7 linked regions of the Homo sapiens genome follow. The gene in region 1 interacts genetically with each later gene. Each region holds a gene or a part of one and is shown in the gene's direction. Other genes may lie near its edges.

Region 1 (3,500 bases):
ATTCACCCAGGAGGTCTTTAAGGGGTCTGTCATGGAAGGTGCTCTTCCAGGTATATCCACTAATGAGAATCTGAATACTCAGAAAGACTCTTAGGTTCTTTGGACCCCAAAGTGTTGTCCAAGCCCAAAGGTTGTGTAACTAAAGCTGATCCTTCCTACGGACAGAACTTCTTGGCAAGCCATTGTTGTGTTATATGCATGTGTGTAACAGTCTACCTGTGGAAACATATAAAATAGGGAGAGTTTAAGAACAATCTTCCCTTTTTTATTATTAATTTTTTTTTTTTTTAGGCTGGGCATGGTGGCTCATGCCTGTAATCCCAGCACTTTGGGAGGCCAAGGTGGATGGGTCACCTGTGCTCAGGAGTTCAAGACCAGCCTGACCAACATGGTGAAACCTCGTCTCTATTAAAAATACAAAAAAATTAGCCGGTCGTGGTGGCGGGGGCCTGTAATCCCAGCTACTTGGGAGGCTGAGGCAGGAGAATTGCTTGAACCCGGGAGGCGGGGGTTGCAGTAAGCTGAGATCACGCCACTGCACTCCAGCCTGGGTGACAGATCCAGACTCCGTCTCAAAAAAAAAAAAATTTTTTTTTCAGAGACAGGGTCTTGCTTTGTTGTCCAGGCTACTTTCAAACTCCCGGGCCCAAGCAATCCTCCCACCTCAGCCCCACAAGCTGCTAAGATTATAGGCATGAGCTACTATACCTGGCTAAGAACAACCTTCCTAATTAAGGAACAGATCTTTACCAGTACCTTAAAGCCCTAAACAATCCCCCTTGGTCACATTCTTTTCTCTCCTCCATAAAGATAACCACACCCTAGGCTGGGTGTGGTGGTTCACACCTGTAACCCCAGCACTTTGGGAGGCCAAGGTGGGCAAATCACTTGAGGTCAGGAGTTTGAGACCAGCCTGACCAACATGGAGAAACCCTGTCTCTACTAAAAATAGAAAATTAGCTGGGCGTGGCGACGCATGCCTATAATTCCAGATACTTGGGAGGCTGAAGCAGGAGAATTGCTTGAACCCGGGAGACAGAGATTGTGGTGAGCCGAATCACGCCATTGCATTCCAGCCTGGGCAACAGGAGCAAAACTCCGTCTCAAAAAAAAAAAAAAAAAAAAAGATAACCACACCCTGACTTTTGTGGTAATCATTCCCTTTCTTTTCTTTATTACCATTTGTGTATTTATACCTGGATAATAAGTTGATAGTTTGAGCTTTCTTTCTCCCCTAGCACTTTGGTAAGAATTCTAGGAATTAGGGAACTCTGACACGGTACCACCCCCATGTCCCCTCCTTTATCCCTCAGGGCAGAATTGGATTAAGCAGTATTGACCCAGTCCCAAAGTGCAGCTTGTCTAAACCTTCATCTCCTTGAACTCTTCCAGGAACCTCTGTGATGGAGGTCACAGCCACAGACGCGGACGATGATGTGAACACCTACAATGCCGCCATCGCTTACACCATCCTCAGCCAAGATCCTGAGCTCCCTGACAAAAATATGTTCACCATTAACAGGAACACAGGAGTCATCAGTGTGGTCACCACTGGGCTGGACCGAGAGGTCAGGGGTCAGGAGGATCCAGAGGGTGTGGAGGACAAATGTGTATTAGCTCAATCCCGTGGACAAAGCAAAATCCTGCTAGGCCAGTTGTCAGTTAATACAGTGATGGTCTAAGCTTTGCATCTAAGCTTGTGCCCAGAGGTTCCGTGCCTAGAAGACAGGCAGGCTGGCATGAAGCACATGGTTAAATATTCTGGTTCCATGTGTTGGGCTGGGCTAGGCCAAAGGTGGCTAGTGTTCCTGGTCCTGACTTGGTTGTGTCGATCTCTCTGCAGAGTTTCCCTACGTATACCCTGGTGGTTCAAGCTGCTGACCTTCAAGGTGAGGGGTTAAGCACAACAGCAACAGCTGTGATCACAGTCACTGACACCAACGATAATCCTCCGATCTTCAATCCCACCACGGTAATTCTATAACTCCTTAGAGGGTTTCCAAAGAAAGGTCTTTTGTTGTTCATGAACTAAGTGTCACCACTGCTCATGGGCGAAGTCTTTGAAAACTCTCTCCAGACTAGAGAATGTTAACTTTAAACTTAAAAGCAAGCATCTTGAGATGGCAGTTGTCTTTTAGTATCTTTTTTCCACCCTTGGCCTGGGGCCAATTGGTGCAAGATTGTGAAGTTGCAAAAAGCACCTACTGATTTCATAGTCTCATGGTACATTTTTATAGCAAATATTACCTGGTTTCATTTCTTTATTGAACAAATATTTTCTAAGTTTATATTAGGCACTGTGTTAGACACTGGAGAGACCATCACACACAAAGATTCCATTCTCATGGTGTTTCTGGTATAGCCAGGAAGACATCTTATGAGAATTATTGTATGCCAAGGATATTACATGCATTCAAGGAGAAGGTATTGAGAACCAAGTAGGGTAAGTTTAAATCATCCTGTATAATGGCCAGGCGTGGTGGCTCACACCTGTAATCTAGCAAGTTGAGAGGCCAAGGCTGGTGGATCCCTTGAGGATGGAGTTTGAGACCAGCCTGGCCAACGTGGCGAAACTCCATCTCCACTAAAAATACAAAAATTAGCTGGGCGTGGTGGTGCATGCTTGTAATCCCAGCTACTCGGGCATCTGAGGCATGAGAGTTGCTTGAACCCAGGAGGCGGAGGCTGCAGTGAGCCGAGATTGTACCATTGCACCCCAGTGCGCCCATTGCCTGGCCTCTCCTTGTCACATCTTCTCCTTGAAGCTTGCTTTCAGTTAGCCAGGTGTGGTGGTGCATGCCTGTGGTCCCAGCTACTCTGGAGGCTGAGGTGGGAGGATTGCTTGAGCCCAGGAGGTTGAGGCTACAGTGAGCCATGATCGCTCAAATACACTCCAGCCTGGTGACAGTGAGATCTTATCTCAAAAGAACAACAAAAAAAGAGGAATCCTTTAGCCCCCTGAGACTCAGCTCTGCTAGCAGTCTTGGTACTTTGTAAATGACACATCTCTTTGCTCTGCAGTACAAGGGTCAGGTGCCTGAGAACGAGGCTAACGTCGTAATCACCACACTGAAAGTGACTGATGCTGATGCCCCCAATACCCCAGCGTGGGAGGCTGTATACACCATATTGAATGATGATGGTGGACAATTTGTCGTCACCACAAATCCAGTGAACAACGATGGCATTTTGAAAACAGCAAAGGTTTGTATGGTACCTGGCAAGATGCAGAAACTGGCATCCTCACAGCTGTTCATACCCTTGTCCCCTGGTATCTTCTTAGAAGTAGATTCGCTTTGGCAGGGGGACAGGGTGACTTTCCCAGATTGTAGTGGACCATGTGGGATTTGCAGTGGCTCTTCCTGCTCATGTAAGAAATCAAGAAACTGTGCTGTGTGTGGTGGCTCACGCCTGTAATCCCAGCACTTAGGGACGCTGAGGCAGGCAGATCACGAGGTCAGGAGTTTGAGTCTCTGCTAAAAATACAAAAATTAGCCAGG
Region 2 (4,183 bases), on another chromosome or scaffold:
ACTGTATGTAAAGGGCCTGGCACTCATAACAGCTCAAAAAGTGGTGGCTGGTGACAGCGGCACTTGCTGCATCGGCTCTTGGTTTGTCAGTGGCCTCTTTGTTTTTGACCTGGGGCTTGGGGCAGCCAACTTGTCCCAGTGAGGTCCTTGGGTAACTCATTGTTCTTATGGCTCTTTGGGTTGGGTCTGGTAAACAATTCCAGAATTCCCTTTTTCCTTCTTAGAGGCAGAAGGAGTCCCTAGATAGGCAAGTCTCAGGGAAGCAGGCTCTGGAGTAGGGGATCATGCCTGAATTCCCTGTTTAGACTCATGGCTCTGCCATGTGGAGCTATGTGGCTTTGAGCAATCTCTTTATCTCTCTGGGTCTCAGAAACATGGATACCTTGGCCTGTAGGATGTCCTACAGCTTTGCAATGTTAGGATTCTATCCTTGGGTATCAGTCATGTACCCGGGTAAATGATCATTTTCTTCATAGCTAGAGGGAGGCCATGCCCCTTCATTGCGTCTCTGAAGGCCCATCATGCCACAGATGGGCGATGCTCAGTGGCTGATGCTACCTAGCTCTGTCCAGTCCCACAAATCCAGATCAGTGTGAGCATTCCTGAGTCCCTGGCCCCCACTCTGTCTCCTTCAGGAAGCAGTGTTGTGGTGGTTCCCATGGTGGCTCGGGGGGATGTTAGATCCTCCCGCCCCCTCCCTGCCAATCTCCATCAGCCCTCACAGCCCCAGTTCCAATAAACATACAATCTAAGCAAATAATAATAATGTGCTTTTGGGAGGCAAGGGCAGGGTTAAGACAAAGCCTTCAGCTGCCCTTCAAACCTGAGTGCTGCTCCTAAACCTGTCCCCCATACGCATTAGGCAGCTTCCAAAGGGGCCAAACCTTGGACCATCCCCTGGAGCCTCAGCCGCCTCCCTGGCCTAAGCCTTGGGGCCCTGGGTCTGCGCTGACCTGCCTGCATCAGCACCTTGGTTCTGATGTCACACAGAACCATGCATCTCTCCTATCTTCTCTTTGAACTGCTAAGAAATCAAGGCCAAAATGCAACTTGCCCAAGGTCACACGGCTAGTAAGTGCCATAGCCAGGCCTTAAACCTGGATTTTCTGACTCCATGTACTTTTTTTTTTACTTCATCAGGCTGGTCAAGAGGGTCTCCCCTACCTATCATTTCCTGGCCCCACGAAATTTTTGAGACGCAATCCAGCAGCCTGAGAGAAGTGAGAGGAGTTGAGCTCACTGCCAGGCACCTTGCCTGGGGCATTGGTGCCCACCTTTTTGCTCCAGAAGTGACTCTGAGGGGCTGGGTGGGAAGCAGGAGGCCATTAGGACCCAGAGGCTCTCGGAGCACTCTGCTTTGCCGGCTGCCTCTCACCGCTCACTGCAGTGCTTCAGGCTTCAGCAGCCTTGGAGAAGCATCAGCTGAGAGGAGCTATCACATGGGAGCCGGGACTGCTCAGCAAAGGTAGGAGTTGCCGACTAGGCCAGGAATGGGGGCCAGACCCAGAGCCTGGTGGTGAGTGCCAAGGTATCCCCACAGAAGGGTGGCTTTCCAAGGACCAGCCCTGCCTACATTCCGGTGAGCAGTTTGATCAGGAGATGGGCTCTCAGGTATCCCAAAGGCGGTATTGGGGTGTGGGCATCTCTGAAGCCCAGAGCTGGGGGGTTGATCATCTCCTGCCGGCAGGAGTACCCACATCCTGCAGACAAACAGCATTCTCCATCTGTCTTGCTCCATGTCATGGACATGGGTCTCCCACATTCTAGGAATGGGCCCTTCAGCATACAGGCTGATGGGCAACTGTGTCCTGGGCGTGGGCAACTCTGCTGAGGAGAGGTGTTGTAGCTCCCTGGAAATCTTCCCTAGCTTAGGAGGGGCACGCTCTTGTCTGAAGGAAGGCCAGGCTCAGGTCTTTGGGATGGAAGCTCTGGATCTGGAAAACAGGTGCATGTGAATCCCAATACCTCTGTGGCCTTGGGCTGGGCACTTATGCACATCTTGCATCCTGTAACTTGACCATGCCCCTGCTAGAGGCCCAGACCTCAGGCCCTAGTGGCAAAGCCTTCTAGGTACTGAAGGTCCTGGAGGTAAGAGGGGTGCTGTTGGAAGTAAGTAGTGGGGGAAGGAAAGCATCTGTTGGGGGAGTAGGCATAATGATATGACCTGGGAGAGGAGTGAGGCTCCCTGGGTTTCACCTATGAAACTGTTACACCACAGCCCTCCCCTCCATAACCCCAGTCCATTAGTGAGGGAGTGCCCATTAGCCAGATACACTGATCTGTCTGTTAAGAGGTAAATTGGAATCCTGGCATTTAGGAGTCACTGTGGAGACACTGGCAAGCTTGAGGGAGCTATGAAAAAGAGCAATGTCCAATGCCTTCTTGCTCAGGGCTCCATCATGGCTTCGTGGCATCCCTCCAGCTCCACGTGGAAACCAGGTCTGCTTCCCTCCGTCTGGGACTCTTGATGTCCATCCAGACATGGTGGGCCTCTCCTCCTTCAGCCACCAGGGAGGGACTCTGAACCACATCCTCTGGGCCTCACTCACAGACAGAAGGGATAGGTAAATCAGAGCATGGAGAGTAAGAAGGAAGGATGCTTCTCCTAGCATTTCTTTCAGGCATTTTTCCTGGTAGACTCTAATGAGAAGCTGATGTCTCACTTTTGTGCCCGCTCTTCAACTTCTCTGCAGACTCTAAGTCTCTGTGGGCATCTTAACTGTGAAATGAGCTTTCTGTGTCCCTAGAGAGAGGCACGTCTCTAGGCAGTTGCCCAAAGTTAGGGCTTCCTCAAGTCCAGGAACCCCGGCTACCCTTTCCACAAGAGAGTCCCTTGGCTGGCACACAGCTGGCTGACTGAGTGTTCTTGGAGTTTGTCCTAGGGGGCAGGGATTCAACTACCAATTTGAGTTTGATTCAATTCACAAAATTGTATTCAGCACCTATTGCATGCATAGCATGTTAGAAGTTGGATTGGTGTAAGGTTTATGGAAACACCAAAAACCAAAGGTGACTGTAAGGCTATAACTGTGGAGGAGAGTGGGGCCCATCTTGCCATGTGATCCTCTTTATTGCAGCCATAGAAATGATGGGTTTTTAAACTGAGCAACCTCAGTGTCTCCTCCCTACTTCTTGTTCTGTGACTGTAGTAAGTCTAGAACCAATGCGGCTCTTGGTCAGGGATCCTCCAAGGGTCAGCTCCAGAGATCAGAGATTTGGGGATCTGGGGAGCAGGAGGTTGGCAGCAGCTCCTTTCCCACAAGAGGGGCACAGTGGCCTTGAAGAGTTCATGAGTGGGTGGAGAAGGGCAGCTTGAAGCAACTTCCGGCTTTGGGAGCAGTGGAGGCTGGATGAGCTGGCCTCCCAGTTTCCTTCCAGACGGGACATTTTGTTTTCACTGCTCCTACTCAACATTCCCAAAGTGGCAGCTCTTTGTGCTGGGAGTAGTGATGTCAAAAGAGCCTAAAGCACAGCTCCCCTTTTCAGATGATAACCCTAGGGCAGCAAGAGACAGTTTTAGAGACAGCTGAAATTCAACAACTATTTACTGGATGCCTATTATAGTCCAGCCGGCACGGAGGGCACCTTCACATATGGCATGGCACAGTGGGCAAGAGTACTGGACCTGGGGCCAGACTGCCCAGGTAGGTGCCCAGCCCTTGCCGCTTACTAGCTGTGCGACCTTGGGTAAGTTACTTAACCTTTCTAGACCTCAGCTTCATCTCTTGCAAAATGGAGATAAAAATATTATCTACTTCATAGGGTTGTGTGAGGAATAAAATGAGTTAATATAGGTAGAGTGCTGAGAACAGGGTCTGGCATGTGGAAAACGCCGTATCAATGCTACTGCTTGTCATTAGTATTATTATTAACAAATCACGCAGGATCCAGAAACACAGTTGTGAAGCAAGTGTTCTTCCTTTCATTTTACAGATGGATTTATGAGGAAACTGAAATTCAGAAGATTCACAGAGTTAGTAATGCCCAGAACTGGGACTAGAAACTAAATTTTGTGCTCCTTCTACTCCCCAGCAGCTCTTGCCATTCTGAGGAGACAAGAAATCAGGAAATTTACATAAGGAACCCTAAAACTGAGGCACTATCCCAGAGATCAGCAGGACCCTGGGAAGGAGAAACAGGATTTAGAATCCCCGGCTAACAGTTCTGGAAAGGGTAGAAGGGT
Region 3 (3,500 bases), 1.6 Mb from region 1:
CTCTAACTCTTAGCCTCAGGCAATCCTCCTGCCTCAATCTCCCAAGTAGCTAGGACTACAGGTGCATGCCACCATGCCCAGCTCATTTTTCTTTTTTGTTTTGTTTTGTTTTGTTTTGTTTTAGAGACAGGGTCTCACTGTGTTGCCCAGGCCGGTCTTGAACGCCTGGACTCCTCAAGCAGTCGTCCCACCTAGGCCTCCCAAAGTGCTGGGATTACAGGCGTGAGCTACCACGCCCAGCCCATCAATTTCCTTACCTATTGATTGTCTGGAGTATTTGCATAGCTGGCTTTGGAAGGAACATGGAACAAAAGGACTTCTAAATCTTAGCAGTATAGTAAATAGTGTTTATTTTCATTTATTATTTACTTTAGAGTCCCACTCTGTCACCCTGGTTGGAGTGCAGTGGCTCAGTCACAGATCACTGCAGCCTTGACCTCCTGAGCTCAAGTGAGCCTCCCACCTCAGCCTCTTGAGTAACTGGGACTACAGGTGTGTCCAGCTATTTTTTGTATTTTTTTGTAGAGACGAGGTATCACCATGTTGCCCAGGCTGTTCTCGAACTTCTGGCCTCAAGCAGTTGGCCTGCCTTGACCTCCCAAAGTGCTGAGATTACAGGCATGAGTCACTGTACCTGACCTGTTTTTAGATATATCTTTTATAATTTATGTAATGCTATGAATTAATAACCACCACCCTTGCTGTGTCCAGGGAACACTTGTCTTCCAAGGCCAGCCAGATTTGCGGGTCTGCTGAAAGCATTAATTTCTCTAAGAAAAGAAACCATTCTGTATTTTATGAATTATAGAATAGTTGCAGATTAAGATTCCTTAGGGAAGGGCGGTAGCTTGGTTTGATTTGGTTTGGTTTTTGACAGTGTTTTTTTAAGGCATAGGAAAATACGTCTGACAGAGGTAGGAGGCATCATTCCTTTCTATAGAAAAAGATAAGATTCTAGGCCTCTAAAACAATTCTAACTTCTAGGCATCCATCCTCTGTCTTCCTGGCTTCCTAGGAAACCACAGCTTCTCCAGGGAGTCTATGCCATGGGCTTCAATCGACCCTCCAAGATACAAGAGAACGCATTACCCATGATGCTTGCTGAACCGTGAGTATGCAGATGAAGCGCATCTCACCCAGTGTGATTAGATCAATCTTCCCCAAACTGCGTTTTTGTGCCTGAGAACAGAAGGAGCTGTTTGGGGCCACGTGTTTCCTCAGGAATACAGCTTAGGCAAGTGCAGAGAGAATCGGATGGAGTTAGCTACAGTTTCTGCCTTTCCCACTTAACAATAGAAACTTATAGAGAAAGGTAGTGCTTTATTCCATGCTATCTTAAAAACTGGGCTTAAGGCCGGGCATGGTGGCTCACTCCTGTAATCCTAGCACTTTGGGAGGCCGAGGCGGGCGGATCACCTGAGGTCAGGAGATTGAGTCCAGCCTGGCCAACATGGCAAAACCCTGTCTCTACTAAAAATACAAAATTAGCTGGGCACGGTGGCCCAAACCTGTAATCCTAGCACTTTGGGAGGCCAAGGTGGGCGGATTGCCTGAGCTCAGTAATTCGAGACCAGCCTGGGCAACATGGTGAAACCCCGTCTTACTAAAATCAAAAAAAAAAAAATATCCAGGCCTGTTGGCATGTGCCTGTAGTCCCAGCTACTCAGGAGGCTAAGGCAGGAGAATTGCTTGAACCCGGGAGGCAGAGGTTGCAGTGAGCCGAGATGGTGCCACTGTACTCTAGCCTGGTGACAGCAAGACCCTGTCTCAAAAAAAAAAAAAAACTAAACTAAAAATACAACAATTAGCCTGGCATGGTGGCACGTACCTGTGGTCATGTAGCTGAGGCAGGAGAATTGCTTGAACCCCAGAGGCAGAGGTTGCAGTGAGCCGAGACATGCCACTGCACTCTAGCCTGGGAAACATAGACTCTGTCTCAAAAAAAAAAAAAAAAAAAAAACTGGGTTTAAAAAATATTATTTTGATGTGAATGGTGTTGCAATAAATTCAAAAACAAACAAAATATTATTTGGAAATTTTTGAGACCTACACAAAGGTGTAAAGAACAATACCAAGAACACCTCTGTAGCCCTATCCTGCCAAGAAAGGAAGCAGGTCCAGTTGATAGTTGAAGCCCCTGAATTCCCCTCCTTCCACATCCTTCTCCCACCCTGACAAGACTAAGTTCCTTTTGAGACAGGGTCTCATTCTGTTTCCCCATCTAGAGTGCAGTGGTGCAATTACAGCCCACTGCAGCCTCGACCTCCTGGGCTTAATTAATCCTCTCACCTCAGCCTCCGGAGTAGCTGGGACTATAGGCATGTGCCACCATGCCCAGCTGACTTTAAAAAAACTTTTTTGTAGTTTGAGAAGCTGAGGCAGGTGGATCACTTGAGGTCAGGAGTTTGAGACCAGCCTGGCCAACATGGTGAAACCCCGTCTCTACAAAAAATACAAAAAAATTAGCCGGGCTTGGTGGCGCACACCTGTAATCCCAGCTGCTAGGGAGGCTGAGGTGGGAGGATCGCTTGAACCCAGGAAACAGAGGTTGCAATGAGCCAAGATTACACCATTGCACTCCAGCCTGGGCGACAGAGTAAGACTCTGTCTCAAAAAAAAAAAAAAAATTTGTAGAGACAGGGTATCACTATGTTGCCAGGGCTGGTCTCAAACTCCTGGCCTCAAGTGATTCTCCAGCCTCAGCCTCCCAAAGTGTTGGGATTATAGGCATGTGTTACTGCACCTGGCATATTTATCATTTTTTCTTTTTTGAGATGGAGTCTCCTCTGTCGCCCAGGCTGGAGTGCAGTGGTGCAATCTTGGCTCATTTCAACCTCTGCCTTCCAGGTTCAAGTGATTCTCCTGCCTCAGCCTCCTGAGTAGCTAGGATTACAGGCGCACACCACCACACCTGGCTAATTTTTGTATTTTTTTGTCTGTTCGTTTGTTTTTGGGATGAAGTCTCGCTCTGTTGCCCAGGCTGGAGTGCAATGGCGCGGTCTCAGCTCACCGCAACCTTCGCCTCCCGGGTTCAAGTGATTCTCCTGGCTCAGCTTCCCGAGTAGCTGGGATTACAGGTGCCTGCCACCATGCCTGGCTAATTTTTGTATTTTTAGTAGAGATGGGGTTTTACCACGTTGGCCAGGCTGGTCTCGAACTGCTGACCTCGTGATCTGCCTGGCTCAGCCTCCCAAAGTGCTGGGATTACAGGCGTGAGCCACCGCACCCAGCCTAATTTTTGTATTTTTAATGGAGGTGGGGTTTCACCATGTTGGCCAGGCTGGTGTCGAACTCCTGACCTCAAGTGATCTGCCCACCTTAGTTTATTTATTTATTTATTTATTTATTTTTTTGTGAGATGGAGTCTCGCTCTGTCGCCCAGGCTGGAATGCAGTGGCGCAACGTCTGCTCACTGCAAGCTCCGCCTCCCAGGTTCATGCCATTCTCCTGCCTCAACCTTCCCAGTAGCTGAGACTACAGGTACCCGCCACCACGCCCGG
Region 4 (3,500 bases), on another chromosome or scaffold:
TTAGTCAGACTCTGTAACAGAAAGTTTAAGTGTTTATATTATTTGACTTTATTCTATCCTAACTTAACCTGTAGGATTCAATGCTGGATTTTGAAAATCAGACACTTGATCCTGCCATTGTATCTGCACAGCCTATGAATCCAACACAAAACATGGACATGCCCCAGCTGGTTTGCCCTCCAGGTTAGTAGTGGTACATTTTTATGTGAGAGAGAAATATAAGGCCAGTACTTTCAGGTTTTAAAAAGATTGTGAAAATAAATTTTGTTTATTTTAATGACTGTTTAATTTTGACTCTTAGGTCTTTTAATTTGATAGAAAGAATGTTATTGTTCCTATGATTTGAATTAAAAATGTAGTTTATAACTGTTTATTTTTAAACTTTTCATTGGCATGTAGATATAGAAAAATATACGCAAGTTTAATGAGTTTTTATAAACTGAAAACACCTGCAGCTAGATTAAGAAATGAAACATTACCAGTACCCCAGAAACCTACGTTGTTTCCTTTCAATCACTAGTTACCCTCACCCCTAGCGATAGCAACCACTTCCGTACTTGTAACTGTAATAGACCAGTTTTGTCTGTTTTTGTAACTTTAACAAGTGAAATTTTGCTTGGCTTTTAAAATTTCAAAATTAATCTAGGAGTAAAAATAATAGAGGTGCCTTTTTTTGAATGCTTTTAGCTTTCTAGGAGAATTTCTGGATTTTATTACCTTAAAAAAATACACAGCAATGAAGTGGGTAAGGGAATATGTAAGAGGCAAAGGGAAGAGAGAAACCACAAGACAGTTTCAGACTCTTTCTGGACTTACACCATTATTTGAAGTAGTAGCACTAAATACAGTTGGTGCCTTCCATTGGGTTAAGTGGACCTTCTCTCCAGGACTATTAGTGATTGTGAGTCATCTTGGTTTTTCCCAGAACACATCAGTTTTAGTTGCACAAAAGTGGAACTAAATAAAATAACCTATTTAATGTTGCATGATGTTAAATATCATAAAATAAATTGCTGAGTAAAAGTATGTTTAATGACAGTTAATTTGGTGTAAGGTAGTTAGGATTTTTCTGAAGTAAAGGGAGCTCATATCTCTCACATTTTTTTTTTTTTTTTTTTTTTGAGACGGAGTCTCGCTCTGTCGCCCAGGCTGGAGTGCAGTGGCGCAATCTCGGCTCACTGCAAGCTCCGCCTCCCGGGTTCACGCCATTCTCCTGCCTCAGCCTCCCAAGTAGCTGGGACTACAGGCGCCCGCCACTACACCCGGCTAATTTTTTGTATTTTTAGTAGAGACGGGGTTTCACTGTTTTAGCCGGGATGGTCTCGATCTCCTGACCTCGTGATCCGCCCGCCTCGGCCTCCCAAAGTGCTGGGATTACAGGCGTGAGCCACCGCGCCCGGCTCTCACATTTCTATCAAGAGTTTTAGAAAACAGATCAAAGGTGACACCTACAAGAGAGCAATCATGGTTTTTAGTGTTCATTTTCTGAGCTCTACCAAAGGAAGAGAGTAAGTCGTTTTCTCAGCTGGGGAGTTGTGTGAAAGTCAGTATACATAGCACTGATAAAACCTGTAAGGCTATTTAGTTATTTACATAATGCTGAGTCCATTAGACTCTCCAGTGAAAATGGGTACTTTCTAAATGACTAACCAAAGATCGTCGTTTTGATTATCTGTTTAATCATTGTTGGGAAGGGAGGTGAGAGAGTGATGGGAATTGTTAAGAAGATGCATGCTGAGTTGAATATAGGCTGTTAAAAAGTATATATTATTTATTTGTTTATTTAGAGACGCAGTCTCGCTCTATCGCCAGGCTGGAGTGCAGTGGCGCATTCTTGGCTCGGCACGCTGCAACCCCTGCCTCCCGGGTTCAAGGGATTCTCCTGCCTCAGCCTCCCCAGTAGCTGAAAGTACAGGCACACACCACACTACACCCAGCTAATTTTTGTATTTTAAGTAGAGATGGGGTTTCACCATGTTGGCCAGGATGGTGTCAATCTCTTGACCTCGTGATCCACCCGCCTCGGCCTCCCAAAGTGCTGGGATTACAAGCATGAGCCACTGTGCCTGGCCGAAAAGTACATATTTTAAATTTTCTTTTTCTCTAGAAACACTTGAAATTGAAAGTTGGTTATGTTAACATATATTGAGCCGGGTATGGTAGCTCATGCCTGTAATCTCAGTGCTTTGGGAGGCTGAGGAGGGAGGATCACTTGAGCCCAGGAGTTTGAGACCAGCCTGAGCAACATAGACCTCGCCTCTACAAAAAAATTAAAAATTAGTCAAATAAAAAAGTTAGCTTGGCAGGGTGGCATGCATCTATAGTCCCAGCTACTCAAGAAGCCAAGGTGGGAGGATTTCTTGAGCCCAGAGTTTGAGACTACAGTTAGCTATGATGGCGCCACTGCACTCCAGCCTGGGCAACACAGTGAGACCCTGTTTCAGAAGAAACAAAAGGTCAAAATGGAATACTATCTGTCTGAGGTCTAGAGTATGAATAATGCCACTTTATTGTACAGCTTTAAAAGTCTTTTTTCATGGCACTGATTATTTGTTAGTGCATTCTATTAACATTTTACTTTACTTTTGGAAAAAACAAGATGAAACCAATTGTGAAAGTAAACTATTAAATAATAACCACTGCCGGTAAACCAAAATGCTCACTTGAAAGCTAAAATTTTATCTGCATTTCCCAATTTACTTTCATGATTGCTAAAAAGTTTATTTATGGTTTGGCTATAGAAATTTACCTTTAATTGCTGGGCATGGTGGTTCATTCCTATAATCCCAGCACTTTGGGAGGCTGAGGTGGGCAGATTGCTTGAGCCTAGGAGTTTGAGACCAGCCTGGGCAACATGGCGAAACCCTGTCTCTACTAAAAATACAAATATTATCCGAGTGTGGTGGCACACACCTGTAGTCACAGCTACTTGGGAGGCTGAGGTGGGAGGATCACTTGAGCCTGGGAGGCAGAGGTTGCAGTGAGCTAAGATCACATCACTGTACTCCAGCCTGGGTGACAGAGTGAGACACTCCCCCCCCCCCCCCCCCCGCAAAAAAAAAAAAAAAAAAAAAAAGCCTTTAATAGCGAAATAAAAGGTATTTAGACGCGTCTCTCTAAAAATTTAATTTTGTTTGACAAAAATGTTTTGGTCACCTTTGCAGTTCATTCTGAATCTAGACTTGCTCAGCCTAATCAAGTTCCTGTACAACCAGAAGCGACACAGGTAAGAGTGATAAAACTATTTTCTTCAGGGCCAGGTTAGGTGGCTCGTACCTATAATCCTAGTACTTTAGGAGGCTGAGATGGGAGGATCACTTGAGGTCAGGAGTTCAAGACCAGTCTGGGCAGTGTAGCGAGACACCATCTCTATTTTAAAAAAATAATTAAAAAATATTTTTTCACTTTTGTTTTAATTGGTTCCTTGGTTTCTTTCTTAGCTTATGAAAGAAAATAAGAATTTCATCAGTGTCCAAGTCTTCTGTTGGAATTCAGCAAAT
Region 5 (3,500 bases), about 67 Mb from region 1:
CGGGGCAGATGTGAGCGCTGGAGCAGCACCCAGCCCAAGGGCCAGGTGGGAAGCAGATGCCTCGGCTCCAGAGCTTTGAGGTTATTCTGTGAATCCAGATTGCATTTCAATAAATGTTGAGGTTGAACCGTGTGGAATTGCTAATACTGGCAATAGTGGTTCCAACGGATACTTCTAACCACGTAAACACTCACGAAGTAAAGCAGCCCGCATCCCCCACCACCCCTGAGCCTTGATGCCAGCGTGCCTGCCCCGTGCACGCGTGAACCTCGACAGCTTCCCCTGCTGGGCTGGCTTCCCACAGGCGTGCTCTGAGGAGGCAGCTTGAGGATCTCCCCATCCCCTCTCGGCCTCCACCCAGGACACACAGCAGTCACCCTAGAGGCCAGCACCTTCAGGGCTCTTGGGACATTCTGCTGCTCCCTGGATTCTGGTGTCTGTGATGAATGCGGGCACAGGGACCTGCTCCTGAGCCTGGATTCTGGTGTCTGTGATGGATGCGGGCGCGGGGACCCGCTCCTGAGTGGTGAGGCTGCTTCCCTCTTAGATTCCTGCATCAGTTACCTGAAGAGTGCCCTGAAATTTCAAGGCAAGTCATTTAAAAAGGTGCAACTGTTTATAACGACTTAGTTTTGGGAATCGAATTTCCCAAATATTGTTCAATAGAAAACAAGGCATGGCGATGACAGGCTAGGGACTCTGTGGGGCTGTTGCTTCACATGCAGTCCCTGACTCCAGGCTGAGTGTCTGTCAGCACACACATTGTCTGCTCTGCAGCGTGCAGGGGCCTGGGAACACACTGCTTCACCACCACCTCATTTGGGCCCCTGTGTAAGGTTTTATTTGCGGGAGAACATTTCTCTGCTACAGAAACGTGACGAGCCCTGGTCCCTGAGGGCAACAAACGCACCTCCCTCTGAAGTTCACTCACAGAAGGCTCCATCTGCCCCTGACCACGCATCCATGTGCCCTGCCCACCTGGCTCCTGCAACCAGGTGTAGGTGGGGGACAGAGAAGGCTGGGCACAGGCCTGCTGTGAGTGGGGAAGCAGGCCCTGACTTAAGCCACTGAGTGAAAGATTTGTGGCAGATGGGGTGACGGGGCCCCAGGAGGTGAGGGGGGCAGGTGGGGGGCACTGGTTCAGACCCATGTCTGACCCCTGCTCAGCCCCTTGCTGGTTATGAGGGGCCCAGATGAGCTGCTTCTCCTCGGTCCCAAGTCCCTCAGCTGCTGGGAGGAGGGAACACCACCATGAGCCGCTTGGGGGTCGGGCAGCTGAGCACGCAGGACAGCACGCCTGAGGAGCTGGCCCCCCGCGGAGTCTCCGGTCAGGCAGCGCCCTCGTCTTGGATGCTGTGAATTCAGTGACAGGGAAGCCGGTGTTGCTGGTGGGCTTCCCCTTCCCACCTCCACCCCCACGCCAGCGCCTTCAAGGGTCAAGTCAGGCAGAGAGGAACAGCTGTCTCAGGAAGACAGAAATAGCAGAGTAGGGCCCGTCCCTGCAGGGATACGACCACTGCAGCCAGGCCCGGCGGCTGGGATGAACCCTTCCCATCAGGAAGACATGGGACCCAGGGCTTGCAGGCAGGTGAGGGGGAGGGCGTGATGCTTCCCGAAGCCACTGCCCAATGGAGGCACAGCCTGTGCCGACCGCCCTTTCCGAGGCAAACAGAGACCACGAAAGTGGCGTGACGGCTGGCGTGGCCTCTGGAGCCCACCTGCACTCACCACTGCCTCTCTGCTCTTGGCCCACAGTGCAGTTCGACATGATGCGCGCCTGCAACCTGGTGGCCACGGCCGCGCTCACCGCAGGCCAGCTCACCTTCCTCCTGGGGCTGGTGGGCCTGCCCCTGCTGTCACCCGACGCCCCGTGCTGGGAGGAGGCCATGGCCGCTGCATTCCAACTGGCGAGTAAGTACCTGGGCGGGTGTGGCCACCGCGCCCTTGCCCCCTGTGGCCTTCTGGTGCCACAGGAGGGTCCTGAGGCCTTGGGTGGCCTGGGGGGAAGCTGCAGGCCATACCTCTCAACATGGCCACAGGCCACTGAGAAGCCCCATGGGGCATCCTCCCTCCCTCTTGCTGTAGGCAAGAATGATGAAAGACAGAAACACACCCAGGCCAAGGAGCAGGGAGGCTGCGACCACCTGGCGTGTCTGTCACACCCTTTTCCACTTTAAAGGCTGAGGCACTTTGCTTTCCTGAGTCTGTGGGGTCTGATTGCTGACTGGCCCTTGTGCAGTCCACATGGGGCAGCCTGGGTCCTGCCCCTTCCTCAATGCTGAGGCAGCTGGTGGGGAGCAGCCCCTGGGCAGAGGCAGAAGAGCCCATGCCTGGCCCTGACCTTCCCAGCTAAGAGGCCTAGAACAGGTCAGGCCTAGGAAGGCCAAGGCATGTGCTCTGTTATAAACGCAGCTTCCTAGGACCTGCCTGGGGTCAGCCTGGGGTCAGCGCAGGCCCTTTCCGTGAGCGGGACAAGACAGAGTGAGAACACGCTAGCACGTTCCACACTGCCTGAGCCGACAGTGAGGTGCCTGCACGAGCACATGCTGTGTGCCTGGCTCGGACACTGATGCAGACGGCAGGACCATCACGAGGCCCTGGCTTCCCCAAGCCGCCATGTGAGTTGGGGAGGAGGCCCGGCCTTGCAGGCGAGGGGCCATTGGTGCTCAGAGCCTCCTCTCAACGCTCTAGACCCAGCAACCTGGGACAGGTCTTGAGAAGACCTGGCGTCATAGAGGGTGACAGTGATGGAGTTGTCGTCAACGACCTATGGAAGGGTCCTGCGGTGTTCTAGACAAGTGCTTGAGCCACAGCAGTGTCCAGCCATGACCCCCAGCGACCCCAGGGGGCTCTGCTGGTCTTCTGTGGCTGACTGAGAGGTTTGAAGACTGTGGGCATCTGGGGCAGGCTCAGGTCTCCTGCTGCTCACTGGGACAGGTCAGCCCGGTGCCCGCAGAGACAGGGACACAGAGAAAGCGAGCATGTCGGCCCATGGCTGAGCATGACCAGCACGGAGCTGCCCGCACCCTCCTTCTCCTCCTCGAGGCCGGTGCAGCGTTCTGCAGGTTGCCCTGCAGTTCCCACAGAGGAAGTGGCAGGAAGTCCAGAGTGAATCATTCTAGGAATAATGATCCTGGGCCCTTATCTTTCTTAAGAAATACAATTTCCAGAAGGAGGCTGACAGACTGTGGGGGCAGGTATTCCTGTGCTGGAAAGTGCCCTGAGCGAGTCAGGCCGGGCTCTCTGAGCGCTATTAATAGCATGGCGTGGCCCTGGGCAAGTCACTTCCCCTGGCGGGTAGGGGCGGGAAGGGAGGGGCCTCGAGGCTTCAGTGGAAGAGCACAGGGCGTGGAGCCTGGAACTGGAGCTGTGTCTTGGCTCCATCACCATCGACGTGGGGTCAGGCAGATGACTAAACTAACGTGAGCCTCTGCATGCCCAACTTCGAAAAGGGTAATTTCTGCCCCCACCCAACTGACTGTAAGAACGAATGAGACAGG
Region 6 (4,182 bases), on another chromosome or scaffold:
GCTTTACTTTTGAGGCCAGAAAAATGGGAAGGCTCCCCTCTGACTCTGGAAGAGAGACGCAAACCGTAATCTCAACAACACAATCCCCACCTCCAACCTCAGCCGCCCTGGAGCCTCTCTCCCGCCAGTCCGCCCACTGGAACACGGGTTCCATGTGCCATCCAGGGTCAACGCCGCTCTGGGGACGCGTCAGGCCCAGCGCACAGCCTGGGCAGCTCAGCCTGTCAGCTGAGCACGGGCGCCTCAAGGGGTGCGGCCCTCTCAGAAGGAAGGTGAGTCTCCCTGGAGCCCCTGACGACAGCGAAGCGGCTGGGCGCTCTCCGGGGAGTGGGCGCGGCACCCAAGAAGGGTTTCTTACAGTTCCAAGAGAGGACCCCAGCCACAGTCACTCCAGAGCCCACCCGGGGCTTGGAGGAGGCTCTGGAAAATGAGGGATGGGGGAGTGTGCAGAACAGGGGGCGGAGGCTGGCAGGAGCCGAGGGAGGGCTTGGTCGGGTGCGAAGAGTGCCTGGGAGGAGTTAGAGTGGGGAGGGGGTGCGGCGGCGGGGAGAGAAGAGGCGGAGCTGGGGGACCAGACCGCTAAAGGAGAAAGGGGGATTCCAGGCAAGGGGAATGTGGCCAGGCAGTGCGGGAGGGCGGCAGCGGCCAGGCTAATATTCGCGACCCCGACTGGGGCGCGGCAACTTCTGCCCTCAGTCCCCACAAGCTCCCGGCCGCGATTCGCGGCCGAGAAATTCTGCGGAGGGGCCGGTGGGTCAGAGCCAGGCCAGGCAGTTGCTGAGCCTTCCCCTCCCCTCCTGGCGGGAGTGTGTGTGCAAGGGGCCAGGGGGCGGAGTCGGAGAAAGGGTTGGGGGTGTCCGTGTCCAGCGCTCCTCCGGACGCGGCTCCACAATCCAGCTGCGAGAACAGATGGACGCAGCGGCGGCTCACCTCGGGGGCTTCCTGCTCGCTGTGCGCCGAGGTCCAGGCTGAAGCGGAGATCGCAAGCCTCTGGCTCCCGCCTCTCCCAAGGGGCCTCGAGGAACCGGCTGCCGCGCCCCCTTCCCCAAGAGGAGAAGAGCGGGCGCTGACCCCGCGAGTCCTAGAACCGCGGGCGGGGGGCAGGCAGGGGGCGGGGGGCAGAGGGCCAGCTACCGGCGCGGAACGCCCATCCCAGGGGCTGGTTCAAGACTTCCACACCGAGAGCCCTTCCTGGGCCTCCAGCCCTGGAGCATCTGGAGAGCGGACCCCTGCCCGGCCACGCCCCGCCCCCGGCCCCCGCCCCGCCGACGTCGCATTAGCATGAGCGACGTAAGTGGCCCGGGCACCACTCGGGGGCTGGGACTCGCCGCGTCACAGCCCCGAGTGGAAGGGAAAAAAAAAGAGGAGGCGGCGGAGGAGGCAAGAGCCGACGCGAGGGGAGGGGAGCGCAGCGGCGGGGCTAACGGGCGGGCAAGCGGGCGGGCGGCAACAGCATGTCCCTCGGCCAGCGCGGGCGGCCTCTTAGCGCGGCGGGGGCTGCTCTGGGCGCGCCCCGGGCGAAGTGCGCCCAGTCTCCGGCCCCGGCCCCTCGGCGCGCCCGACTTCCCGGCCGCCCCTGAGCCCAGCAGCCGCGGGTCCCGGGATCGGCTAAGAGTAGCTGCAACGCCTCGCCGGACGGAGTCCTTTCCTTTCCCGGGACGCTGGGCCATGAGCTCCGCGGCCACCTGAGGCACAGGGGAGTCTGCTCGGCCAGGACAGCCTCCCCGAAGTCCCGTGCCCTCGCCTCTGCACTGCGGGACGCCAGCGCTCGGCCCTGGCGGAGGCGTCCTCGGAAGAGCATCGGGGTGGGGGCATGGAATCCGCGGAACCTGCGGGCCAGGCCCGGGCGGCGGCCACCAAGCTGTCGGAGGCTGTGGGCGCGGCGCTGCAGGAGCCCCGGCGGCAGAGGCGCCTGGTGCTTGTTATCGTGTGCGTGGCGCTGTTACTGGACAACATGCTGTACATGGTCATCGTGCCCATAGTGCCCGACTACATCGCCCACATGCGCGGGGGCGGCGAGGGCCCCACCCGGACTCCCGAGGTGTGGGAGCCCACCCTGCCGCTGCCCACTCCGGCCAATGCCAGCGCCTACACGGCCAACACCTCGGCGTCCCCGACAGCTGCGTGGCCAGCGGGCTCAGCCCTTCGGCCCCGCTACCCTACGGAGAGCGAAGACGTGAAGATCGGGGTGCTGTTTGCTTCCAAGGCTATCCTGCAGCTGCTAGTGAACCCCTTGAGCGGGCCCTTCATCGACCGCATGAGCTACGACGTGCCGCTGCTGATCGGCCTGGGCGTCATGTTCGCCTCTACAGTCCTGTTCGCCTTCGCCGAGGACTACGCCACGCTGTTCGCGGCGCGCAGCCTGCAGGGCCTGGGCTCAGCCTTCGCCGACACGTCTGGCATAGCCATGATCGCCGATAAGTACCCGGAGGAGCCGGAGCGCAGTCGTGCACTGGGCGTGGCGCTGGCCTTCATTAGCTTCGGAAGCCTAGTGGCCCCGCCCTTCGGGGGCATCCTCTATGAGTTCGCCGGCAAGCGCGTGCCCTTCTTGGTGCTAGCTGCCGTGTCGCTCTTTGACGCGCTGTTGCTGCTGGCAGTGGCCAAACCCTTCTCGGCGGCTGCACGGGCTCGGGCCAACCTGCCAGTGGGCACTCCCATCCACCGCCTCATGCTAGACCCCTACATTGCCGTGGTGGCCGGCGCGCTCACCACCTGTAACATTCCCCTCGCCTTCCTCGAACCCACCATTGCCACGTGGATGAAGCATACGATGGCGGCTTCCGAGTGGGAGATGGGCATGGCCTGGCTGCCGGCCTTCGTGCCTCATGTGCTGGGCGTCTACCTCACCGTGCGCCTGGCGGCGCGCTACCCACACCTGCAGTGGCTGTACGGCGCGCTTGGGCTGGCTGTGATCGGCGCCAGCTCGTGCATCGTGCCCGCCTGCCGCTCCTTCGCGCCGCTAGTGGTCTCACTATGCGGCCTCTGTTTTGGCATAGCCCTAGTCGACACAGCACTGCTGCCCACGCTCGCCTTCCTGGTGGACGTGCGCCATGTCTCAGTCTATGGCAGCGTCTACGCCATCGCCGACATCTCCTATTCGGTGGCCTACGCGCTCGGGCCCATAGTGGCAGGCCACATTGTGCACTCGCTGGGCTTTGAGCAGCTCAGCCTTGGCATGGGACTGGCCAACCTGCTCTATGCTCCCGTCTTGCTGCTGCTCCGCAACGTGGGCCTCCTGACGCGCTCCCGTTCCGAGCGCGATGTGCTGCTTGATGAGCCACCGCAAGGTCTGTACGATGCGGTGCGCCTGCGTGAGCGTCCTGTGTCTGGCCAGGACGGCGAGCCTCGCAGCCCGCCTGGCCCTTTTGATGCGTGCGAGGACGACTACAACTACTACTACACCCGCAGCTAGCATCCCCACTCCTCCTCCAGCCCACCCAACCGCCTTGGGTCAAGGGGGCTGCTCTGCAAGCCCACTGGCCAGCTCTGGCTCAGGGCCCACCTCCTCCAGCGAGTACCCCAGCCACTCCTCAACCTTGACTTCTGCCCAAATCCCCTCCCTGTGACCCGTTCCATATCCCTTTCTCTCTTGTCCAATGGGGCTTGGAGCACCGAGGCCAGCGAAGCCATCGCGCTCCTTGCGGAGGTGAAGAGGACCCTGAGTCCCCACCTGCGGCTCCCCTGTGTAGAGCCTGCATCTGTCTGTCCTTCCTTCCATTGCTCCCAGTGCCAAACTTGGGCCGCTGCACCGCGGCGCCTCCGCCCAAATCAATAAACTGTGTCTGTCCCAGGAGGCCGAGTCTCTTTACTGGTGGGGGGTGCGTGGAGGCGCGCAGGGCCAGAGCAGAGGGGAGGGTGAACTGGGTCTCCAAGTCCCAATCCAGACCTAAGCCAAACTAACACGTAGGCACCTGTAGCTGTTTTTCTACCTGGAAAAGGGGATAGGAAGGAAGCAAACCCAACAAAGGCTGTCACCCACGGTCACCAAGGAGCACCATGCTCCCCTCAGCCCAGGATAGACCCTCTTTTCCAGGCCTAGCGCAGAGCCCGGGGATGCCGCCCGGGGGAGCCTGAGGACCCGCTCCAGCTAGGCACGCCAGGCCCCGCCCTTTGAGGACACGCCCCACACCAGCCTCAGAGCTCTGAGGTGCCTGGGCTGAGCTTCCCTTCAGACCAGAATCC
Region 7 (3,500 bases), on another chromosome or scaffold:
ACTCATGATGTGCCTGCCTCAGCCTCCCAAAGTGCTGGGATTACAGGCAAGAGCCACTGCGCCTGGCCAAATCTCCATTTCTTTTAAAAAAAAAAAAAAGTTTGACTTAATATTTTAAGTTTTTGAATTATAAGGAGTCTCTATTGTTCTTTCATTTTTAATTGTATGAATTTATGCCATTGTTTGCTAATTTATGTAGAAGTCATTTTCTTTTATGTTGGCAGATCATTTAAATCTTTATTTTCTTTTCTTAGGCAATTTTTCACAGCAAAAGTCTTTGCTAAACTCCTTCATACAGATTCATATGGAAGAATTTCCATCATGCAGTTCTTTAATTATGTCATGAGAAAAGGTGATTCATTTTTACTGTGCTTGAACTCCTTATCTGGGAATCAAGTAGGTTTTTGGTCTGTGCTTTTATAAGTATTTCTTCTATGTGAAATCACTCTAAGTTTGAATAGTAGAATTTCTTATCTTTTGACCAAGATGTGTTACATAAACTTGGGTTAGCATAAAAAAACAAAAATTTTTTAAACCCTCATGTGTCTTAAAGATAATAGTAGACTAGAAATATTAAGAGCTGAACCAAGAGTTTTAATGTATGGTAATTTGAAATAATTTTAATTTACTGATAATTTTATTTTACCAGTATATTACAAGTTGAGTTGACTGATAGTTTCAAACCCAAAGCTGTAATATCAGTTTCAAGGAGCATCAATTAAACAGCTTGGACTTATGATTCCTACAAGTGCCATAATAATCTGTGAAAGCCTATTGTATACAATCTTTAATAATTGGTTGCTGTAATTAACCTCAGAAATAAAAGCAGCTTCACTGAAGGCATAATATTATACTAGCTGTCCCTGTTTGGTGGAACACCAAGTTTAATTGGTAAAGAACAGTATCTTCAAGGTGTCAATTTTATTATAGCTTTAGTCATGGTAGAATTGTTGAACTCTTCCATTCTATGGTTTTTTGTTTCAAGCAATTTTGTGGTGAGAAGAAATGTTTTTAGAGTTACTAGATTAGCTTGTCTCAAATCTGGCTCTTTATCTCCTTTTTCATATCTGAAGGATAGATCTTAAGAATTACTTTCATTTTCTTGTTTATTGTCAGTTTGGCTTCATCAAACAAGAATAGGACTCAGTTTATATGATGTCGCTGGGCAGGGGTACCTTCGGGAATCTGTAAGTGTTAACCTTATAGATATTATATTAACTCTTATAGACACTAAAATGTAAACTGTAGTTATCACTGGGTGTTGGGATTACAGGCTGTTCTCATAATACTTTGTTTTATTTCTGTCTGTGTGTGTTTGTGTGTACATATTTAGTTTTACTGTAACAAAGCAACTTGTACACTTTCAACTTTTAAAATTGAACATCATCTTTCCAGTGAAACAAAAAACAAATTTAAAATAAACAAAATTACAATAGAGAATGTCAATTCCAAATAAGATCCTACAGGTTCTACTGATTCTCCCATGGAGTAGCAGCCTTCAAGTCATCATTAAGAGAGAATTTATGCTGGGTGTGGTAGCTCACACCTGTAATCCCAGCACTTTGGAAGGATGAGGCAGGCGGATCACCTGAGGTCGGGAGTTTGAGACCAGCCTGACCAACATGGAGAAACCCTATCTCTACTAAAAATACAAAATTAGCCAGGCTTGGTGGCACATACCTGTAATCCCAGCTACTTGGAAGGCTGAGGCAGGAGAATCACTTGAACCCAGGAGGCAGAGGTTGCTGTGAACCGAGATAGCGCCATTGCACTCCAGCCTGGGCAACAAGAGTGAAACTCCGTCTCAAAAAAAAAAAAAAAAAAAAATGTATTGGCTGGGTGCAGTGGCTCACGCCTGTATTCCCAAGGCCTGTACTCCCAGCACTTTGGGAGGCTGACGTGGGCGGGTCACCTGAGGTCAGGAGTTTGAGACCAGCCTGACCAATATGGTGAAATTCCATCTCTACTAAAAATAGAAAAATTTGCTGGGCTGTGGTGGTGCATACCTGTAATCCCAGCTATTCAAGGGGCTGAGGTGGGAGAATCGCTTGAATCTGGGAGGCAGAGGTTGCAGTGAGCCGAGATTGCACCACTGCACTCCAGCCTGGGCAACAGAGGGAGACCCTGTCTCAAAAAAAAAGAGAGAGAGAATTTATTTTAAAGGTGTCATTTTAAACTGCAAGGATGCCCCTTAAAAATCACAATTAAACATGCCAAAGGAAAAGCAACGTTGTCAAAATGCTCACTTTAAACTATCAAAACGTTTCAAACCTACCCTTTGCTGACCTATAACCCCATTTTGTAAAATTTATTTTCTTTTTTTAAATAAGAGACAGTAGACAAGGATGCCGGGCGTGGTGGCTCACGCCTGTAATCCCAGCACTTTGGGAGGCCGAGGCGGGCGGATCACGAGGTCAGGAGATCGAGACCATTCTGGCTAACACGGTGAAACCCCATCTCTACTAAAAATACAAAAAAAAATTAGCCGGGCGTGGTGGCAGGCACCTGTAGTTCCAGCTACTTGGGAGGCTGAGGCAGGAGAATGGCATGAACCCAGGAGGCGGAGCTTGCAGTGAGCCGAGATCACGCCACTGCACTCCAACCTGGGCGAAAGAGCGAGACTCCATCTCAAAAAAAAAAAGACACAGTAGACAAGGAGATGTTGGTAAATGCTAACTGTCCATATTCACATAGAGACATAGTATACTCTGCGCTCAATAGAGGAAAGCAGCTAGAATTCTATGCACGACTACACAAGGGCCTAGCACCTTCCAGCTTCCAGCAGAGCAAAGGGAACAGGTTTTTCTTTTTTTTTCCATAGACCTCGGTGGTGTTGATTCCATATAGTTTTTGTTGAGACACAGGATGTTTCCGTTTTGGGGTTTGGTTTTTTATTTTTATTTTTTTTAACAAATGACATGTGTTACTAAACAAATGTTTAATGTATATTGACTATACAAATTCCTTTTTAGATTCTTTTTCTTCAAACTTTAAAAAAAAAAGGCCTTTTGGCTGGGCGCGGTGGCTCATGCCTATAATCCCAGCATTTTGGGAGGCCGAGGTGGGCAGATCTTGAGGTCAGGAGTTCAAGACCAGCCTGACCAACATGGAGAAACCCCGTCTCTACTAAAAATACAAAAATTAGCCAGGCATGGTGGTGGCCACCTGTAATCCCAGCTACTCAGGAGGCTGAGACAAGAGAATCGCTTGAACCCAGGAGGTGGAGGTTGCAGTGAGCCTAGATTGTGCCATTGCACTCCAGCCTGGGTGACAAGAGCGGACTGTCTCAAAAAAAAAAGCCTTTTAAAGGGGAAAATAAAAAGAATGTAGCATTTTAACATTTAAAAATCACTGAAAAACGTTTGATTATTCATGAGTGATATTAATGTGTCACTATTTTTTAAAGGGCCAAGAATTCCACCCCCCCGCTTTTTTTTTTTTAAGAAAATATAAGAGAAGCCAGACACGGTAGCTCACGCCTGTAATCCCAGCACTTTGGG

The links.
Region 2: changes in CDH1 (region 1) and GPR61 together harm fitness more than expected from each alone (negative genetic interaction), as found in Homo sapiens cells (one large-scale study listed by BioGRID).
Region 3: changes in CDH1 (region 1) and DDX19A together harm fitness more than expected from each alone (negative genetic interaction), as found in Homo sapiens cells (one large-scale study listed by BioGRID).
Region 4: changes in CDH1 (region 1) and CAPRIN1 together harm fitness more than expected from each alone (negative genetic interaction), as found in Homo sapiens cells (one large-scale study listed by BioGRID).
Region 5: changes in CDH1 (region 1) and TMEM204 together harm fitness more than expected from each alone (negative genetic interaction), as found in Homo sapiens cells (one large-scale study listed by BioGRID).
Region 6: changes in CDH1 (region 1) and SLC18A3 together harm fitness more than expected from each alone (negative genetic interaction), as found in Homo sapiens cells (one large-scale study listed by BioGRID).
Region 7: changes in CDH1 (region 1) and PPP2R3C together harm fitness more than expected from each alone (negative genetic interaction), as found in Homo sapiens cells (one large-scale study listed by BioGRID).

What each region holds. Positions count from the first base shown.
Region 1 is NC_000016.10:68,810,292-68,813,791, forward strand, and holds part of CDH1 (cadherin-1 isoform 1 preproprotein), read left to right. Parts: coding exon 1-50; intron 51-1,392; coding exon 1,393-1,568; intron 1,569-1,843; coding exon 1,844-1,972; intron 1,973-3,021; coding exon 3,022-3,204; exon of another isoform or gene 3,205-3,271; intron 3,272-3,500.
Region 2 is NC_000001.11:109,538,489-109,542,671, forward strand, and holds the start of GPR61 (G-protein coupled receptor 61), read left to right. Parts: upstream 1-1,383; 5' UTR 1,384-1,465; exon of another isoform or gene 1,466-1,579; intron 1,580-3,933; 5' UTR 3,934-4,183. UniProt on the Homo sapiens protein: Orphan G-protein coupled receptor. Constitutively activates the G(s)-alpha/cAMP signaling pathway. Shows a reciprocal regulatory interaction with the melatonin receptor MTNR1B most likely through receptor heteromerization.
Region 3 is NC_000016.10:70,360,403-70,363,902, forward strand, and holds part of DDX19A (ATP-dependent RNA helicase DDX19A), read left to right. Parts: intron 1-1,015; coding exon 1,016-1,108; exon of another isoform or gene 1,109-1,234; intron 1,235-3,500. UniProt on the Homo sapiens protein: ATP-dependent RNA helicase involved in mRNA export from the nucleus.
Region 4 is NC_000011.10:34,086,231-34,089,730, forward strand, and holds part of CAPRIN1 (caprin-1), read left to right. Parts: intron 1-74; coding exon 75-183; intron 184-3,164; coding exon 3,165-3,226; intron 3,227-3,500. UniProt on the Homo sapiens protein: mRNA-binding protein that acts as a regulator of mRNAs transport, translation and/or stability, and which is involved in neurogenesis, synaptic plasticity in neurons and cell proliferation and migration in multiple cell types.
Region 5 is NC_000016.10:1,540,166-1,543,665, forward strand, and holds part of TMEM204 (transmembrane protein 204), read left to right. Parts: exon of another isoform or gene 1-560; coding exon of another isoform or gene 561-576; intron 577-818; exon of another isoform or gene 819-1,328; coding exon of another isoform or gene 1,329-1,353; intron 1,354-1,755; coding exon 1,756-1,911; intron 1,912-3,500. UniProt on the Homo sapiens protein: Can influence paracellular permeability. Appears to be involved in cell-cell interactions through adherens.
Region 6 is NC_000010.11:49,608,928-49,613,109, forward strand, and holds SLC18A3 (vesicular acetylcholine transporter), read left to right. Parts: upstream 1-1,382; 5' UTR 1,383-1,813; coding exon 1,814-3,412; 3' UTR 3,413-3,793; downstream 3,794-4,182. UniProt on the Homo sapiens protein: Electrogenic antiporter that exchanges one cholinergic neurotransmitter, acetylcholine or choline, with two intravesicular protons across the membrane of synaptic vesicles.
Region 7 is NC_000014.9:35,104,991-35,108,490, reverse strand, and holds part of PPP2R3C (serine/threonine-protein phosphatase 2A regulatory subunit B'' subunit gamma), read left to right. Parts: intron 1-254; coding exon 255-352; intron 353-1,116; coding exon 1,117-1,187; intron 1,188-3,500. UniProt on the Homo sapiens protein: May regulate MCM3AP phosphorylation through phosphatase recruitment. May act as a negative regulator of ABCB1 expression and function through the dephosphorylation of ABCB1 by TFPI2/PPP2R3C complex.